Homo sapiens: one gene and its partners. The protein of the gene in region 2 interacts with the protein of the main gene of each other region in a biochemical or structural test. Each region holds a gene or a part of one and is shown on either strand. Other genes may lie near its edges.

The links.
Region 1: of the proteins of LYN (region 2) and NMT1, one has a biochemical effect on the other in vitro, tested with the Homo sapiens proteins (one study listed by BioGRID).
Region 3: the proteins of LYN (region 2) and BANK1 form a complex in vitro, tested with the Homo sapiens proteins (one study listed by BioGRID).

What each region holds. Positions count from the first base shown.
Region 1 is NC_000017.11:45,067,664-45,071,316, reverse strand, and holds part of NMT1 (glycylpeptide N-tetradecanoyltransferase 1), read right to left. Parts: intron 1-3,653.
Region 2 is NC_000008.11:55,945,743-55,949,395, reverse strand, and holds part of LYN (tyrosine-protein kinase Lyn), read right to left. Parts: intron 2,949-3,653; coding exon 2,903-2,948; intron 1,779-2,902; coding exon 1,673-1,778; intron 1-1,672. UniProt on the Homo sapiens protein: Non-receptor tyrosine-protein kinase that transmits signals from cell surface receptors and plays an important role in the regulation of innate and adaptive immune responses, hematopoiesis, responses to growth factors and cytokines, integrin signaling, but also responses to DNA damage and genotoxic agents.
Region 3 is NC_000004.12:101,797,152-101,800,804, reverse strand, and holds part of BANK1 (B-cell scaffold protein with ankyrin repeats), read right to left. Parts: intron 1-3,653. UniProt on the Homo sapiens protein: Involved in B-cell receptor (BCR)-induced Ca(2+) mobilization from intracellular stores. Promotes Lyn-mediated phosphorylation of IP3 receptors 1 and 2.

The DNA of each region.
Region 1 (3,653 bases), on a different chromosome or scaffold from region 2:
AGGCTGAAGTAGGAGGACTGCACCATGGCACTACGATCTGGGTGACAGAGTGAAACCTTGTCTCAAATAAAAAATGAATTTTTTGGGCAGAAATTCAAATTTTCCAGAGAAACTTATTAAAATAAACTCTAACCTCTAATATCCTTTTGATTCTACTTTTAGACATCAGGAAATCCTTTTGCAAATCAATTAACTCTTGAAGTATGGTAAGTTCACTAATAATCCTATTAGTACTCAGAAAGACCAAAGAGAGGTGAATGAAATGGCAAAGATGCCCAGAAGGAAATGACATGGCATGAATCAGTATCAGCTGTCTAGTCTCTGTACTTCTGCGGCTAAGGATCACTCAGTGCAATACCCCCAACTCCGCACATTCCCACCAATTAGTTATATCAAAAACTGCTTGTGAATCCCAAATGATGGGAAAAATAAAAACACTTTAGTACTGCCATCAAGGTACCCTGGGGCTGGGCACAGTGGCTCATGCCTGTAATCCCAGCACTTTGGGAGGCCAAGGCGGGCAGATCACCTAAGGTCTGGAGCTCGAGACAAGCCTGGCCAACATAGCAAAACCCTTCTCTACTAAAAATTACAAAAATTGGCCAGGCGCGGTGGCTCACGCCTGTAATTCCAGCTCTTAGGGAGGCCGAGGTGGGCGGATCATGAGGTCAGGAGATCGAGACCATCCTGGCTAATACGGTGAAACCCCGTCTCTACTAAAAATACAAAAAATTAGCCGGGCGTGGTGACGGGCGACTACAGTCCCAGCTACCCAGGAGGCTGAGGCAGGAGAATGGCGTGAGCCCGGGAGACGCAGCTTGCAGTGAGCCAAGACCGCGCCACTGTACTCCAGCCTGGGTGACAGAGCGAGACTCTGTCTCAAAAATAAAAAATAAAAATTAGCTAGGCATGGTGGCGGGTGCCTGTAATCCCAGCTACTTGAGAGGCTGAGGCAAGAGAATAGTTTGAACCCAGGAGGCAGAGGTTGCAGTGAGCCGAGATTACGCCACTGCACTCCAGCCTGGGTGAGAGTGAGACTCCATCTCACACACACACACACAAAAAAAGGTACCCTGGGAGGTCTGTGAAGAGAACAGCAGGTTATAAAAAGGGATTACAAAAGACCACTTTTGCTGCCACCCTCGGCCCTCCCTGGGATAGTAAGCCAGAGTACTGAGGGTGAACGAGCCAATTCTTGTCATGGACGATAACTGCTTTTTAGAGGTCACAAAAGCTCTGGTATACTAAACTCCTTAAAACCGGAATGAGACAAATGTGTATATTCCACACTGAGTTTGTTTGGCGAGTTAGACTTTGACTTTGCAACTCCAAGGTAAAATCAAATGCTGTTCAGAGACCATTATCAAGAATATGTTGAGCAGTGGCTCAATGCTGGCAGAAATCTCACCTACTAGAATGACTTTTTTTTTTTTTTTTGAGATGGAGTCTCACTGTTGCCAGGCTGGAGTGCAGTGGTGCGATTAGAATGACTTCTGAAAATAATATTTGTCTATCATGAAGAGACAAACTGGGTCCCAAGTTTGGGAACGTCCATAGGCTGTTAAATGGAGCCAAAGATAGGATTCACACTGCTGCAGACTCAAGATGCAGAACTCAATTCAGCAGGGGAAAGAAACCTAGCAAGTTCAGAATGGATCCTCTGAGATGTCAAAGAGACCAGTGGAGATGCAAATCTCAAGCCTCACTATAAAAACTAAAGTCTAGCTGGGCGCAGTGGTGGCTCATGCCTGTAATCCCAGCACTTTGGGAGGCTGAGGTGGGCAGATCACGAGATTAGGAGTTCCAAGACCAGCCTGGCCAAGATGGTGAAACCCCATCTCTACTAAAAATACAAAAATCAGCTGGGCGTGGTGGCATGTGCCTGTAGTCCCAGCTATCCAGGAGGCTGAGGCAGGAGAATCACTGGAACCTGGGAGGTGGAGGTTGTGGTGAGCCAAGATCACGCCACTGCACTCCAGCCTGGGCAACAGAGCGAGACTCTGTCTCAAAAATAAATAAATAAATAAATAAATAAATAAATAATAAAAAATAAAGTCTGGCCAGGCATGGTGGCTCACGCCTGTAATCCCAGCACTTTGGGAGGACAAGGAGGATGGATCACGAGGTCAGGAGTTCAAGACCAGCCTGGCCAAGATGGTGAAACCCCGTCTCTACTAAAACTACAAAAGTTAGTTAGGCACAGTGGCAGGCACCTGTAATCCCAGCTACTTAGGAGGCTGACGCAGGAGAGTCGCTTGAACCTGGGTGGCAGAGGTTGCAGTGAGCCGAGATCGCGCCACTGCACTCCAGCCTGGGCGACAGAGTGAGACTCTGTCTCAAAAAAACCCAAAAAAACAAAAAACTAAAGTCCAGGCATGGTGGCTCACGCCTGTAATAATCCCAGCACTTTGGGAGGCCAAGGCAGGTGGACTGCTTGAGGCCAGGAGTTCGAGACCAGCCTGACCAACATGGCAAAACCGTGTCTCTATTAAAAATACAGAAATTAGCCGGGAATGGTGGTGCACACCTGTGATCCCAGCTATTTGGGAGGTTAAGACACAAGAATTGCTTGAACCTGTAAGGCAGAGGTTGTAGTGAGCTAAGATCGTGCCACTGTACTCCAGCCTGGGCGACAGAGTGAGACTCAAAAAAAGAAACAAACAAACAAAAATCGCTAAAGTCTTCATAAGTGAAATCATGGAGGATATAATCCAAGTAAAGGGCTTAGCACAATGCCCACTACGTAGTAATAATAGTAACATTTACTAAACACTTAACCATAGTGACTCCTCAGTTGTCTCTCAAGAGAGCAGCTCTAGAAAGTTGTTGTTCTGTTTATTTTTTTGAGATGGAGGCTCTCTCTGTCGCCCAGACTGAAGTGCAATGGCGCCATCTGGGCTCACTGCAACCTCTGCCTCCCGGGTTCAAGTGATTCTCTTGTCTCAGCCTCCCATGTAGCTGGGACTACAGGTGTGTGCCACCACGCCCAGCTAATTTTTGTATTTTTAGTAGAGATGGGGTTTTGCCATGTTGGCCCGGCTGGTCTCGAACTCCTGACCTCAAGTGATCTGCGCACTTCAGCCTCTCAAAGTGCTGGGACATTTTTGAGGCAAATACTGAGCCTATGGAGGAATTCCGGTTTAGTATTTTTGGCGCTCTCAATAGAGAACACCATATTTTTGTCCCTTAAATGTAACAATCACAAGGACATCTTCTTTGAGGAATTGGAAGAGAGGCCTGAAGGGTAGAGATTTCAGATAAAAAGCTGAAGAGAAAGAGTTAAAGAAGCATCCTCCTGAAGTTACTAAATGTATGGCTCATAAATCTATGGGCTCTATAGGGAAAGGGTTAACTGCCAACTTAGTAAAGCTGGGGAATTTTAGCGTGAGCATATTAGTTGAACAATGTGAAAAATCAGCAAAACTGCTGTGCCATGAGCAGCGAGTCCCTGAAATAGGCTCTCATTTACTTTCCATTTCTTCTGCTTTCCAGTCTCTTCTCTTTGAAGCAGCTCTTGATTAGTTTCTTTTTAATTGCCATTTAATTGGGAAACAAAATTAGAACACTTATTTGATATCAGTGATGAGGTTTCTCTTTCCATTCTGCTTTGATCTAGTTTTGAAAAACCAAAAGTTGAAGGGAGAAATTAAAAA
Region 2 (3,653 bases):
AAGCAAAGGAAAACAGCCTTACAACTAAAGCACGCATCACTGCGATCAGGGGTGCACAAAGAAGAGTTGGTACAAATGGCTCCCATCTCACAGAAACAAAAGGTTTGTAACTTGCCCCAGGATAGCTAAGAAATGCTTTCAAATCCTTATAGAAATGAGAGTCAAGGGAATACTGGTCCACAGTTCATGCATTATAAACTCCTTTGTTCAAACATCTAGTTATCATAGAGATGGACACTATGAAAAGAAGAAAACCATAAGACAATTCCAAGCAAGTGAGCTTCAGCACCATGCTCGAGTCCTCAGCAGAAAGGCAGGCATGGAGCCAGGGAGGAGGCAGGGATGAGCACTGGAAGAAGCAAGCAGGTAAGCTGGTAATGGGGGAAGGAATGGGTCCCTTTGAGCCTTAACTGCATTCCTCTATAAATTCCACACACAGACAGGATCCTTGTCTGTAAGGCATGAAGGCAACTAGAACTAATACTAAGCTCTGCATCCTCTTTGCTTATGTCATGTTTAAACACATGCATCATGCTCACATCAACCCCATGATCTAGGTACTGTCATTCCCATTTTATAAGTAAAGAAACCAAGGTATAAAGTTTAAGGGTCTTGTCAAGGTCATACAGCTATCAAGTGGCAGGGCCAGGATCAGGCTTAAGTCCCTGTTCAACCCATATGCAACATTGCTCTCAACCACGGAACACCTTGTCCTTAATAAGGGAGTCTCCCCCTCAAACCCTATTTGGCAGGTCACAGTGACATTTAATGCAAGATTAGTAAGAAAAGCAAGCTAGAATTAAAGCAACTGGAGTTTCTTATTCTGAGCACTGTCCTGCATGCCTATGGTCTGACACTGCCACATGTCTGAGTCAGCAAGAGGGGGTTGAGGAGATGACGACACTCAGGCGTCCTCACAAAAGCATGGCAGCTGCTGAGTTGAGAATTTCCCAACACAGCTGCTGTAGCTCAGTACCCTTAGAACTCAAGCTAGGCTGGGCCCATGAACCCAGTCTAAACATGAGTAATATAACAAAAGAAAAGTGACATTTCAAGTATCATGCATGGGCCACACAGACCCAAATTTCTTAAGGTGGCAAGAGTGGATAAAGAAAGAAACCAGGCTGGGTGTGGTGGCTCACACCTGTAATCCCAGCACTTTGGGAGGCCAAGGCAGGAGAATTGCTTGACAGCAGGAGTTCAAGACCAGCCTGGGCAACATAACAAGATCCCATCTCTACAAAAATTTTAAAAATTAGCCAGGCCTGGTGGCACATGCCTGTAGTCCTAGCTTCTCAGGAGGCTGAGGTGAGAGGATTGCTTTAGCCTAGGAGTTCAAGGCTGCAGTGAGCTATGATCATGCCACTGCATTCTAGCCTGGATGACAGAGAGAGATCCCATCTCAAAAAAAAAAATTGTTTTAAAGAAAAACCACTGTCTGTCTTCAAAGGGAAACCCCCTGAAGTGTGCTCACAGACCGACTTAAAAGGAAAATCCCTTTGGCTCTATTCCTTCCACTGCCCACTCCCTGTGGGTAGCAAGGAGGCCTCATACCCATTACAAGAAAGGGGCCGGGCTATGGCTGTAGCACCAGAAGCAAGACAAGGGGACAGCCTGCAGGACTCAGTGGCCTGAGGAAACGAGCAGCCGTGGCGTGCTTGAGAGCACTTACTCCTCCAGGACTTTCATCTTCTCTCCTTTCTTGAAAGACAAGTCGTCCGGGTGGATGCCATCATAGGGGTACAAGGCTACCACAATGTCTCCTTGTTCCTCTGGATCTAAAGATGAACACAAGAGAACACCTGTAAGAATCCATCAGCAGAAGCGTTTTAACAAACCTCATGGGGCACAAAGGATGAGAGGAAGCACTAAGAGGGGGCAACTGGAAGAAGGACATGTGCTTCCTGCCTAGTGGGCTCAGGGTCTGCACGGCCCACAGAGAGTACCTTGCTGTATACACTGTGTCCAGTATTTGTTCTTGCAAATCACTTAAAACTAAAACTATAAATACAACTCTATATTTAAGAAATTATACACCCATGTTCACAGCAGGATTATTCAAAATAGCCAAGATGTGGAAATAATGCAAACATCTATTGATGGAGGAATGGATAAACATCATGTAGCATTTTGGTTTTTCTCTTTTGAGACGGAGTCTCGCTCTTGTCGCCCAGACTGGAGTGCAATAGTGCAATCTCGGCTCACTGCAACCTCCACCTCCTGGGTTCAAGCTATTCTCCTGCCTCAGCCTCCCCAGTAGCTGGGATTACAGGCGCCCACCACCACGCCTGGCTAATTTTTTGTGTTTTTAGTAGAGACGGGGTTTCACCATGTTGACCAGGCTGGTCTCGAACTCCTGACCACAGGTGATCTACCTAACTTGGCCTCCCAAAGTGCTGGGATTACAGGTGTGAGCCACTGCACCCGGCCAGGGCATATACTTACAAGGAAATATTATTCACTATTAGAAGGAAATAAATTCTAACACTTTCTACAGCATGGATGAACCTTGAGGACATCAGGCTAAGTGAAATAATCCAAACACAAAAGGACAATTACTGTATGATTCCACTTCTAGGAGGTACCTAGAGTAGTGAAATTCATAAAGACAGAAAGAGCGGAGGTTGCCAGCGGCTGGGGGAGGAGGCAATGGGGACTTATTGTTTAATGGGTATGGAGTTTGAGAAGATGCATTCTGGAGATGGAGGGCGGTATTGGTTGTACAACAATGTGAATGTACCTAATGCTGCTGAAATGTATACTTAAAAATAGTTAAGAGGGTAAATTTTTATGTTATATATGTCCCACAATAAAAAAAAATAAAAACATTTAGGACAATCACTTTATAGAAGCTCTAATAGTAAAGAAAAAAAATTTTAACTATGTTGCTATGAAAACATACCTTTAGTTTGAAACCTCTGTCCAGGTAAAAGCTGAGATTCTGGAACCTACGAGAGAATATTTGTTAGAAAAAAAAATTCTGTTTAGCTTTTCTTACTCACATTCGTGTTGTATATATGATTTTTGTAACAGTAGCAGATGTTAGGATGGGCTCATTTATTAAGTCAGAAAGAACAGGAGCACAGAGGGAAAAACCTGTAGAGGTGCATCCTGCCCTGCTTGGCCAGTGACAGGGCTCTTTATCACTTGCTGTGGGTGGCAGGAAGGGAGCGAGGTTCTGGGCAGGTGCCAGGTGCTCACCTCATCCTAGCTCCTCCTCTTCTTTGGTGACAGAGCCCTAATATTATTTGGGGTGGCAGTTTGCCCAGCTCAATGAGTGTGCTTCCAAACTCTCTAGCCCCGGGCAGAGGGCAGAGGGAGTTTTGGTCCGCAGATCGGTTGTGCAGGGCTTTGCTGTCAGCTCCCCTTTTCCCTTGCCTCTTTCTCTCTCCCTAGAAACAAGTGAAGGCTGGAGTCTTCACATAGAAAGCAAACACCAGCGGCAGCAGGATGGAGACGGAAGAGGTGGGACCCTGGTGATTTCGTGGAGTTGCCGTCCCAGCCTGGGACTGCCCATCTGAGGCTTCCCCAATTGTATAAAATTGCATGGTCAGGGCTCTGTCCCTGGAGGCTGAGAGCAAGTCCCATCCCATCCAGGTTTTCTTGGGCTGACCCTGACTCCATCACAGGGACAGATGGCATCCCCTGTTATT
Region 3 (3,653 bases), on a different chromosome or scaffold from region 2:
GGCTGGGTGACAAGAGCGAGAAACCATCTCAAAAAATTTGAAAAATTTAAAAACAAATCTTGTCTGAAACAAGTAACGTGTAACAAGAATTGCCTAAATTTATATTACCAACCTGTTTGAATGTGTTTTTATCTAGCAATAGTCAGTCTCTTAGATTCACACAGGAAGAATAGAGCCAGAAAGATTTATTCAGGAGTAGAGCTTTATCAAGTAGTTGTGACAGTAACTACTAAGCAAATGCAAAAACAGGATTTTAACGAGAATGAATGGATTCCAATATGGATAAAAAGGAAGGGATGATATATAGAAAGTAAAGCTAAGGAATAATTCAACACTGTACCAAGGCTTTCACAGAAAGAAGTGTCAACTATTTATTCTCCATTAAGATCAATACCAAAAAAACAAAAAAAGAAAAAAGGAAAGAGGAGAGGAATGGGAAGAAGAGAAGGAGGAGCTCCAGAAACATAGAAGAAGGAATGAAAAATACGAGACAGAAATTCTTTTTCTTTTCTTTTTTTTTTTAAATTATACTTCAAGTTCTAGGGTACATGTGCACAACATGCAGGTTTGTTACATATGTATACATGTGCCATGTTGGTGTGCTGCACCCATTAACTTGTCATTTACATTAGATATATCTCCTAATGCTATCCCTCCCCCCTCCCCCCACCCAACAACAAACCCTGGTGTGTGATGTTCCGCATCCTGCGTCCAAGTATTCTCATTGCTCAATTCCCACCTATGAGTGAGGACATGCAGTGTTTAGTTTTCTGTCCTTGTGATAGTTTGCTCAGAATGATTGTTTCCAGCTTCATCCATGTCCCTACAAAGGACATGAACTCATCCTTTTCATGGCTGCATAGTATTATTCCATGGTGTATACGTGCAACATTTTCCTTATTTTATTTTATTTATTTATTTACTTATTTTTGAGATGGAATCTCACTCTGTCACCCAGGCTGGAGTGCAGTGGTGCGATCTCAGCTCACTGCAAGCTCCGCCTCCCAGGTTCATGCCATTCTCCTGCCTCAGCCTCCCAAGTAGCTGGGACTACAGGCACCCACCAGCACGCCCGGCTAATTTTTTGTGTTTTTAGTAGAGATGGGGTTTCACCGTGTTAGCCAGGATGGCCTCGATCTCCTGACCTCGTGATCCGCCCACCTTGGCCTCCCAAAGTGCTGGGATTACAGGCATGAGCCACCAGGCCCGGCCACCAAATTTTCTTAATCCGGTCTGTCATTAATGGACATTTGGGTTGGTTCCAAGTCTTTGCTATTGTGAATAGTGCCACAATAAACATACGTGTGCATGTGTCTTTATAGCAGCATGATTTATAATCCTTTGGGTATATACCCAGAGCCTGCATTGCCAAGACAATCCTAAGCCAAAAGAACAAAATTGGAGGCATCATGCTACCTGACTTCAAACTATACTACAAGGCTACAGTAACCAAAACAGTATGGTACTGGTACCAAAACAGAGATATAGACCAATGGAACAGAACAGAGCCCTCAGAAATAATACCACACATCTATAACCATCTCATCTTTGACAAACCTGACAAAAACAAGAAATGGGGAAAGGATTCCCTATTTAATAAATGGTGCTGGGAAAACTGGCTAGCCATATATAGAGAGCTGAAACTGGATCCCTTCCTTACACCTTACACAAAAATTAATTCAAGATGGATTAAAGACTTAAATGTTAGACCTAAAACCGTAAAAACCTGAGAAGAAAACCTAGGCAATACCATTCAGGACATAGGCATGGGCAAGGACTTCATGACTAAAACACCAAAAGCAATGGCAACAAAAGCCAAAATTGACAAATGGGATCTAATTAAACTAAAGAGCTTCTGCACAGCAAAAGAAACTACCATCAGAGTGAACAGGCAACCTACAGAATGGGAGAAAAGTTTTACAATCTACCCATCTGACAAAGGGCTAATATCCAGAATCTACAAAGAACTTACACAAATTTACAAGAAAAAATCAAACAACCCCATCAAAAAGTGGGCAAAGGATATGAACACACACTTCTCAAAAGAATACATTTATGCAGCCAACAGACACATGAAAAAATGCTCATCATCATTGGCCATCAGAGAAATACAAATCAAAACCACAGTGAGATACCATCTCACACCAGTTAGAATAGCAATCACTAAAAAGTCAGGAAACAACAGATGCTGGAGAGGATATGGAGAAATAGGAACACTTTTACACTGTTGGTGGGACTGTAAACTAGTCCAACCATTGTGGAAGATAGTATGGCGATTCCTCAAGGATCTAGAACTAGAAATACCATTTGAAGAGACAGAAATTCTTAAACACATAAGAAAATCTACACATTAAAATGTATTACTAATGGAATTCATGGAGCTGTTCTCTATAAGTTTTCATAGCAGAAAACCCCCCTTTGGTGTGACGCCATCGGCTTTTGAGAACAATTAAATTGCTGCCGTGACACTGATCTTAAAGCAACAATGAAAGTAAAATCCTTTCCTTGATGCCACATCTTCAGCTGCTTATCAGACAGCCATATTTCTAAAGGGCGTCTCCATGGCCTCCATCACCTTACCTTCTTCCACTCATTCCCATTCAGCTCTCATCCTCTTTACTAAAGCTACTTACTTCTCTAAGGTCATCTGTAAGTTTCATGATGCCAAATCCATTGGCTAAATTTCAGGCTTCAATTTGCCTGACCTATCAAAAGAATTTGGGCCAGTTCACCATTCTTACCTTCCTGAAACATTCTATTTTTGAATTCTTCTCACTGTATCTTCGTTTTCCTTCTTTTTAGCCTCTCCTCAGTCATATTGAGCAACTCCTCCTTCTCTACCAACACTGAAATGTTTGTTTTCCACAGGTCTCTATCCTGAGTCACCTTATCTATGTTATCCTATTCATTGTTGTAGTTTTAAATACAATGTTTTTCTTAATTTTATATCTCCAGTCTGAACTGCCTTTCTGATATCCAGATCCTAAAATCGAACTGCTTACTTGACATCTTAATGTGACTATTTCTCATGCTCCTCAAATGTAACAGATCTGAAATTGAAATGACATTCTCTCATGCCCTCCCGGTGTCCTCTTGTTCCTTCACTCCTTTCCAATGGAGTAAATGACACATTCTTGATTCTCTTAGGTTTACAGACCACAACCCTTGGTGTCATTCTTCACATTTTTGTCCCCTTCAGACTCCAAATCTACTATATCACAAAAGGTATGTAAGTAATAGTTCTTAATAAATCTGTCCACTTCTCCCTGTATTTTTACTCATTGCAAACCCCTAATTGTTCACTAACTTCCATTGCTGCCCTTTTCCAATTAATTGTATCAAGAGCAGCTCATGTGATCTTCTAACACAAAATCTAATCATGTGCCATCCCTCATTAAAAACTCTTCAAGAGCTCCTCATTATACTTGGGGAATTTTTTACACAAATTTATGCAATTAGGTTTTGGTTTACTTTTCAGATTCTTCTCCTCACTCATTATAATAACATTGTGAGTGTAACCTTGTCACATCTTGAAAAAATTTTGTCTTTCTGTGTCTCATTTCTTCACTGACATCATTGGACTTAATTGATCACATCTGAACTTTATTAATTTGTTCCTGTCACTGAAGTTTAGCAAGAACACATTGAATTCT